Linked DNA regions of Homo sapiens: region 1 is linked to region 2. The links come from fine-mapping of genetic effects on gene expression. A gene starts in region 2. The other region holds a variant in brackets. All regions are shown on one strand. Distances are between the middles of the regions. Region 1 has its middle 13 kb from the start of TMEM174. Region 2 holds the start of TMEM171 (transmembrane protein 171).

Region 1 (4,517 bases), 39 kb after region 2:
GGGCTTCTAGGAGCAGAAAGGAATTTCTGGCAGGGAATTGGAACCTCAGTCTTATGTTGCTTAGGACCAAATTCGGCCAACAGCCTGAATGAGCTTGGGAACAGATTATTTCCTGAGCCTCCAGATAATACAGAGGGATGCCTGACCTACAGAACCGTGAACGAATAAATGAATGTAGTTTTAAGCCTCTAAGTGTGTGGTTATTCTGAAGTGGAAACTAACATACAAGTACATAAATTCCTGAGCTCAGAAGCAAGCCCACTGCAGACCTACTCCATCCAGAAGCTTCTCACACCAAGAGCTGGGCCTCTGGGAGGCTCACCTTATCATTTGCTGGAAATGGCAGTGGCTGTGACTTAAATTCCAGCCCCATCAAGGTAGTTTTCAGTTCAGTTGGTGTCTGAGTGCATTTTCTGCTGCTATAAAGGAATACATGAGGCTGAGTCATTTATAAAGAGAAGTTTATTTGGCTTATAATTTTGATGACTGGGCATCTGCCTCTGGTGAGGGCCTCAGGCTGCTCTCACTCATGATGGAAGACGGGGAGCTCATGTGTGCAGAGATCACATGGCAGGAGGGGAAGCAAGAAAAACAGTGGGGAGGCACCAGGCTCTTTTAACAACCAGCTTTACAGGGAACTAATAGGGTGAGAAGTCACCCCCAAAAAAGGGCATTATTCTATTCATCAGGGATCCCCTCATGACCCAAACACTTCCCATCAGGCCAATTTCCAACAGTAGGGATCAAAGCTCAACATGAGTTTTGGAGGAGACAAACATTCAAATCATCGCAGCTGGGGAAAAAAATCTAAAGATTATCAGGACACCCAGGAAACTGCCTACCCAACCAACCTCAGCAGACACCAGCCTCGCTCGAGAACACAGGCAGATCACTTGCCTGCCAGTGCCTGCCCTTCATGGATGAGCAATTTTAAAAACACTTTAGGAAAACAGATTGTCCTCCTGCACTACCACTAAATCAAATAGCCTACTTTCCTGTTCTGAGATTAATCATCTGTAAAACAGAGGCCTTGCTTCTCACCAGGATATCAGAAAGTTCAAGCAAGAATACGGTGTAAAGACACAGAATCCATACTCCATACAGCAATGATCGCCACCGCCACCTACAATATTCTTGTTACTGTTTTGTTTTGTTTTTTTGAGATAGGGTCTCACTCTGTCACCCAGGCTGGAGGGTGGTGGCATGATCATAGCTCATTGACACCTCGATCTCTCAGGCTCAAGTGATTCTCCACCTTACCTCTCAAGTAGCTGAGACTACAGGCTGCACCACCATGCCTGGCTAATTTTTATATATTTTTTTTTGTAGAGGTGGGGTTTTGCCATGTCCTCAGGCTGGTCTTGAACTCCTGGGCTCAAGCGATCCACTTGCTTCAGCCTCCCAAATTATTGGGATCACAGGTGTGAACCACCACCCCCAGGCTCTTGTTATTCTTGAAATAAAATAAAATCTGAAGAATGAGGGGACAGTTTTGATTTTCAACAAGATCCATCCTGTAGCTAATAATAGTATAGTCATGATTCAACCACCCTGTCATTTTATTGTAAAAGTTGAATATAACCTTGAGGCTGCCATGGTCCAACACAATTCAAGTAAATATAACAGGTGAGTAGATAATTCCTATAATTGAGATTTCCCCCAAATATTCCCCCTAAATGACTTATAGACACCTGATGCTCATTTAAGTAGAGAATCTATTCTTAGGGT[C/G]GAGGTTCCGCGTCTGCTCCATCCAGGTCCTTACTGTGCAAGGATCCTCTTGCCGCATGTCCTTGAGGGGGTGGGGCCAAGTGGCATAGGTCACCCCATCCTCGTTGCTACTCCCTGCAGGTCTGCAACTGTGGCCCTCTGAAGGTACAGAGCTGCGCAGGGTGTGCATTTCTGACCGTAGTCACCCCTTGCCATGACATCTGCCTACTTTCACTGATCTAGCCCTAAAGACTGGAGGAATATCATGGAGGATGTTCCCGCCTTGTGCTGGACACCAGGACAGGTCTAGCACCTGGGTTTCTCAGAAGGCTTCCCAGCAGACTATGCATCCTGACCCTGTGTTCCTCTCACATCCACGTGGACCCATGAACCACCTTCCTCTGGAGTCTGATTTTGTCATCCGGACCTTTTCTGATTTTGTTGATCATCTCAGGATTGCCAGGTAGTGGTGGCCACTGACAGGGTCCTACAGTGCAGAGAAGAATGTCCAGGTCCCTTCTTGTGGCTTCTCTCTTTTCTCCCCAACCCCTCTTTCCTGAACCCCCACCTCCTGTGGTGCACCAGCGTAGGGGAGGCCACATGGTGCCATTTTTACCTAAATGTTTAGGAAGACATTCTTTTGAATTTTGGAAATCTTGAAGGGTTTTGAGACATGTATTTGCAAGTAAAACATGCAGGTTCCTGTTTTTCCATGTCACCCAAGCTTGTGGCTTTGTTTTGTTTTATTTTGCTTTTTATGTGCTATAAGTTGTTGAAATATTTTGGGGCTTTTTTGTTATCAGAGAACCTGGTAGTGTTCTGTCTGTAGTCTGATCCAAGTGAATATGGCCAATAGATTACCCTGCAGGATCACAGCACAAGCAGACAGATCTTTGAAACATGGGTTTGCCACTCTACCAAACTTTTGAAAAAAGACATTTAATCACACACACACAGCTTCCACAAAGCAATTTACTTCCAACCACAATGTGTTCAATCAAACGATTTGTTCAGAACTATATGACCACGCTTAGTTTCACTTCCCACCGCAGGTCTCTGATAACCTCTGAAAACTCTGTTTTTGTGGTTATACTGTCATTCATTATTCATCTTTTTAAACTATAATCATTTCAAAATTACAATTTTTAACGGGGAATGTGGATTGGTGGTTAAAAACAGGAAGCTTGATGTCTAAGTCTGAAAAGCAGTGAAAATATGTAAGAAACTCAGAAAAATTCAGAACCTGCCATTATTGTTGATTGTGACAGAGTGTTACCACCTGAGGACTCACTGAAAACTTGCCAGTAAAGAAGGATGAGGTTACTAACCAGCCACAAGTGAATGGGTATATAAACATGGTTGATCTAAAATCTTGGACTATATTTGGATGTTCACATGGACGAAAATTCAAGCAGTATCACAGACTGAACAGTGAAAAGTAAATCTCCCTCTGCAGAAGATTGTATTTTCCAAAGAGAAAGATGGTAATATTTCCTCTCCCAAGTGTTCTTCTGCAATGTGACCTTGACATTCCAACTATAGAAAGGAAGAATCGAATTCCCTTCCCTTTGTATCTGGGTTGGTTTAGTGACTTGCTTGAGCAATAGAATGAAATGAGAGTGATATTCTGGGACTGCCAAAGCCAGGTCATAAGACGCCTCACAGCTTCCACCTGGGACCCCAGGAGTACTTGCTCCTAAGACACTTCCTCTTGAAACCCAGTCCCCTGGCCGGGAGAAACCACATGGAAAGACACAGGTGAGTGCTCTGGTTGATGAGCCAGCGAAGCTCCTAGCATCAGCTGTCAGTCACATGAGTGAACCATCTTGATGTCCCACTCAGGTGAGCTTCTAGGTTCTGGCAGCCCTTGCTGACTGCCTGACAAAACTCAGCCAAGCCACATAACTGTTTTAAGCCACAAAATTGGGAGTGGATTGTTATATAGCAATAGATAACTGGAACACCCTCTCAGTTCTTCTGTCAAATTTATTTCATATTCTTTCAATGACATTTTATGCACAGACATTCAATGATGTGTATGTCTTTCCCCTTGCAAATAATGGCATAATAAGCACACTACAGTACTCACTCTGCTTTCTTTTTCAACCAATAACACATCTTAGAGATTATTCCATACCTGTGTATGTACAGCTGACTTGCTCTTTAACAGTGGAAGAGAACCTTATATTTTACCACCATAAGTTATTTAGCCAGTCCACTACTGATGGACATGTAGGGTTCCCCATCCCTGTACTTTGTTAGTACAGATAGTGATTCATTGTCTATTCTGCTAAAGTATCCTTTTGTAAGGTGTCTATTGTAAGTATGTAGGTTACATTCCTAGAAGATGTTTGTAGCTTCTTTAATTCTGTTGTACGTACATTTTGAATTTTAGTAAATATTGCCAAGCCCCCCAAAAAGAGGTTGTGTCAAGTTATACTCTTCCCCACTCAGATTTAAAGCTGTTTTCCCAGTGACTTGCCAAAACAATGCATTCATAAAGTTTTAAAAATGGTTTACCCTAGATTCTTATTCAAATTATGGATTTTATTGTGGAGAAGAAAATGAGCTTAAACTTTGATATCTATTTGATATCTTTGTATTGCTTGTTTGAGAAACTTCCAGCTATAATTGAATCACTCATTCTTGTCAAAATATTAAAAACTAAAATTGTATGAATTTGGGAAAGATGACATGAGCTACTAGGTAAAAAGGTGAGTTGAAGAAAAATAATTTTTTTTTTTTAGATAGAGTCTTGCTGGGTTGCCCGGGCTGGAGTGCAGTGGTGCAATCTTGGCTCACTGTAGCCT
Region 2 (4,244 bases):
ATTCGCTGGACATGCTTTGGTGCCCTTCCAGAAGGTGGTATACCTTGACACTTGGACCAGGAAGGATATCTCCACCCCAAACATAGATTACTGCAATGTCCTTGGGACACAGTGCCTGTATTGTTATAATAATCTAAACGTGCTTGGCATCACAAGGCCATGAGGGCGTTTTCTGGGTTCACAGCATGGTGTGTTCTCTGAGTGACAGGTGTGCTGCGGGAGAAACACTGAATGGTCAGCGCATCTGCATCTGGCTCAGGCCTTCTCTGCATGTCAACCAGCTGCAGAGGTTACTTTACCTCTGTCAGCCTGGACCTCAGTTTCCTCAACTGACAAATGACTGTTTTTCTCAGTCTCCTGTCCCCTGCTGCCTCCAACCTTTTCTGAACTGCTGGAGAGATGTAGCAAAGAACCACAAAGCAAGGGGTCGTGAGTGTTGGCATTGTTCATTTCGACAGTAATCAGGGCTGTTAGTTATGGCGGGGATTTACAGAGGTCGGGCACCCTGGCTATGAAAAAGTCCACCTTTGGCCACCCAGGCAAGTGCCCCACCAAATTCCAATGGCAAGAACTTGTCCGTTCTGCCTCCCTGGTGAACCCTAAAGCCCAGGTAACCCCCTCCCCTCTTTACCTCTCTGACTGGTTCTTTAAGTCTCTTCTCACCTCTGATGATTAGCTAAGCCTGCTTCATACTTTACCTTCAGTGAGCATGACCAGGAATCTCTTGTTGTATCAGGTAGGTAAAGTGCTTGCTTGCACATTGAAAAGTTTCATCCATTGGCCTTAACTCTAGATAGGGTTTCAGGCAAGGCAGACAGGAAGCTGAGAAGAGAAGGCAGGGCTGGGAAGTCCCCGTGGCTCAGGGCACCTCTGCGCTTGGGCAGAGAACCCTTGACTCACCTTCCACCGTGCCCTGACCCCTGGTGTGGAAACTAGCACAGTTGGATCCGTATCACGTGTCACGGGGCTGGTTACAAATAGCACAGGGATTGGCAAACTCATCCCGAAACTCCCGGTTCAAGGGCAGGGAAAGTTACCAGTTTAATTCCGGCAGATCATTAGTGGTGGAGAACCAGGAAGGGGGTTCTATCGCAAAGGAGGGCTGTGCGCAGACACGTGGGTGCGGGAGGGGCAGAGCTGGTCCGGCGCGGGGCTTGCCGCGTCTCGGCCTCAGTCTCGGAGCCAGGACCTCAGGCCTGAATGGCTGGGTGTGGAGGGCCCTTGTCTCACATTCTGTAGAGCGCACGTCGTCCCGTGACCTGGTGGCTCCATATTCGATGGGGAGCTCGCAGCGAGTCGCTTCCCTCTGTAACCCCACTCCAGGTCTCCAGAGCAGTAGGAGGGCCACAGGGCTGCTGGGTGTAGTCGCCCCGGACCTCGCGGTGGCCAAGGCCAAGGCGGCCGGGGCACGGTACCCTGTTCGGCCTGGGCCGCAACCACGAAGGAGGCGGTGGAGGCGGGGGCCGGCGCTTCCTCCGCGCCCCCCACGCCGCCGCTCTCTCGCGCCCCTATAGAACTGGGCCTCAGGCCTCGAGGGGGAGCGGGCCTCGGCGGGCGGGGCGCACAGTTCCGCCAGCCGGCGGGGGCATCTCAACTCGCCGGCCCCGCCAGGTGTGCGGGCCAGGCAGCCGTGGAAGGTGCCCATTTCTCCCAGATTCCTCGCGCGCACGGCCACGAGCGCGGAGGCTGCCAAACCCGCCAGCCCTGGGTTCCGAAGCCGCCCCTGGCTCTCCATTCCCTCGCGGGCGCGCCCCGGGCCCCCAGTGGCGGCCAGCTCCCACCGGTCGCTCCTGCACTGCCCTGCCCTGCCCTCCCCGGGCCGCCGCGCCCGCGCAGCACCGCCTCCTTCTCTAAATACTGCCGGGTCCGCCCTCCGCACCAGGACGCGCGGTGGGTAGGGTGCAGGGCGGCCGGCGCAGCCGAGGCCGCGTGCGGAGGCGGACGCCGCGCCCAGCCAGTGCCCACAGCAGCGCGGTCAGCCAGGCGCCGGACCCAGCTTCAGGTAAGCTGCCCCGGCCCGCGCGCCTGCGCCGGCGGCGGCGGGTCGGGCGCTGAGCTGTGCGGCCAGGCTGGGCGCGGGGAGCCGCGGCAGCGCGGAGGCGCTGGGTATCCGAGCCCAACCTGCGTCCCTGCGAGCCCCTCCGGCTGTTGCTTGCGCTCGGGCTCCCTAAAAGCCGCAAACCGATTTCGCACAGAAGGCATTTGCCTCTCGTTTCGTTCCCCAAACGCACCATAGCTTTGGACGTGGAGAGGTGCTGTGAATTTTGGAAATGTCTTTTGGAAAACCAATAGGAGTGTTGGAGAGGGGAGTTTGGCTTTGGGGAGTTTAAGTGTAGGGTGGTGTTTGGAAAAGGTTTCATTGCGAGTGAATGTGGGTGTCTTTGTATCCGTTTGTGAGTGCATCTGTGGGAGAAGGAGAGAGAGAGAGTATTTCCACACTATTATGGATCAGAGGTGAACACTCAGCCAGGTGCTCCGTCCACTAGTCCACGGACAAGAAACTACAGATTCAGTTTTGGGCTTCTATTTACTGGTGTTTGGGAATTTGCCTTAAGACAGTTGAAGCCTTGTGACTCACTGCAAAGTTGACTATACTGGGAATAAATGAATTCCTGATAGGACTTTGCAGCCGAGAATCACCCTTCTCTTTCTTGTCTCCGAAACCGCAAAAGAGATTGCATGATTCAGGAAAAAAATTAAAACAACAACAATAACAAAAAACCAATATATATAGGTTTCAGGACTCTCCATCGTTTCATTCCACTGAGAGTTTTGGAATGTACTCCCTGTAGGATAAATGAGGACTACTGTATACTCAATATGAAATTCTTATTCACTGCAGGATGTTACTGACTTAATAAAAAATGGGAAGATTAAAAAATTAGTGCAATGCTTTGTCTCAGCTTAACTGCATCTGTATATCAAGTTTTTCCAAGTTTGAAATGAAAGCTTTTTTCCCTCCTATATTTCCTTTTTTTCTCCAACTTCCTTCTGATTCTATCATACTTTTTCCTGGAAAAGTTTTTCCCAGTGTAAGATTGCCTGTTTGCTTTCTTTACCTAAACTGACCTTCCCTCAGTGTGATTTTGGTTTGTCAAGATCATCTTGGGCTTAGGGCCTCAGTCTTGAGTTCCTTCATGGGACCATGGATGTGAGCGGCACAAAATATTTTAAAAGTTTTCTTTCCTTGGGCAGGTGAAAATAGTCTTCACGATTTTGGATTGTCTTTGCAATTGCAGGACCTGACTTACGGGGTCCTGGTAAAATATCCCATTCATTGGAGTAAAATAAGATAACGAGATAATTAGGTCAGCTCTGTGTAAGCTAGACAACTCTTTAACAACCACTTGGCATATTTAATATATTATACCCCTGAAGTACAGGGCTTGGGTGATTTTCTGGAAGGTGCTTTCTCACTTGATTCCACTTATACTATTCTTTCAAAGCCAAGTTCCCCCCTTCCACCCATTTTGTGCTTTATAACTAGCAGTTTTATTGGCTGCTTGTTTTTTAACTGAGTCTCAACCTCTTTGTGGAAGTAGGTGACACCATGGAGGAGGGTGAGTGAGAGGCCACACCAGCCTTTGGGTACCTGTCCACTCTGAAAATTGAGCTCCTGTTGACCTGCTGTGCAACACTTTCCAGGGTCATCCCAGATCCAAGCAACTGGGTCACCAGTCTGTGCTTGTTGAGAACCCAAGAACCATTTTGTTTTGTTTTGTTTTGTTTTTGGCAGGGTCTCACTCTGTTGCCCAGGCTGGAGAGTAGTGGCGTGATCTTGGCTCACTGCAACCTCCAGCTCCTGGGCTCAAGCAATCCTCCCACCTCAGCCTACCAAGTAGCTGGGACCACAGGCACCATGCCTGGCTAAAGTTTGTATTTTTAGCAGAGATGGGGTTTTGCTATGTCACCCAGGCTGGTCTCGAACTCCTGAGCTCAAGCAATCTGCCTGCCTCTGCCTCCCAAAGTGCTGGGATTACAGGCGCAAGCCACCACGCCTGGCCTCAAGAACCACATTTTGATAGAATCAACTTAAAAGTCCACCAAACCCACTGTGTTCCTGAACAGACTTCTTATTCTATTGAAATTGCTGAAATTGGGTCTTTTGTAGATGTAGCCTTAGAATAAAACATGAAATGGAAAGCTGCTGTAGTCTAAAACAGGAAATGGAAAGTTAGTTACTGAACTGACTTGAAAATGCTGAGAGCAGCTATGATGAAAAGTGGGGCATTTGCAATCAGAAA

The links. PIP is the estimated chance that this variant, and not a neighbour inherited with it, causes the effect.
Region 1: its variant is the best candidate, but not a certain one, in a credible set for the expression of TMEM171 in whole blood (INTERVAL, PIP 0.81).

What each region holds. Positions count from the first base shown.
Region 1 is chr5:73,157,609-73,162,125 of GRCh38, forward strand. No RefSeq gene overlaps it. Among named protein-coding and RNA genes, the nearest start is that of TMEM174, 13 kb to the right of the region's middle. The variant C/G (reference allele first, on the strand shown) is at 1,729.
Region 2 is chr5:73,118,695-73,122,938 of GRCh38, forward strand. TMEM171 (transmembrane protein 171) reads left to right here and starts at 1,881. Exons shown (of 4, transcript NM_173490.8): 1 at 1,881-2,002. It overlaps LOC124901001, which reads right to left and starts at 1,797. Exons shown (of 2, transcript XM_047417978.1): 1 at 1-1,797. The coding sequence starts at 1,735. The coding sequence ends at 1,034. RefSeq lists an enhancer at 720-1,271.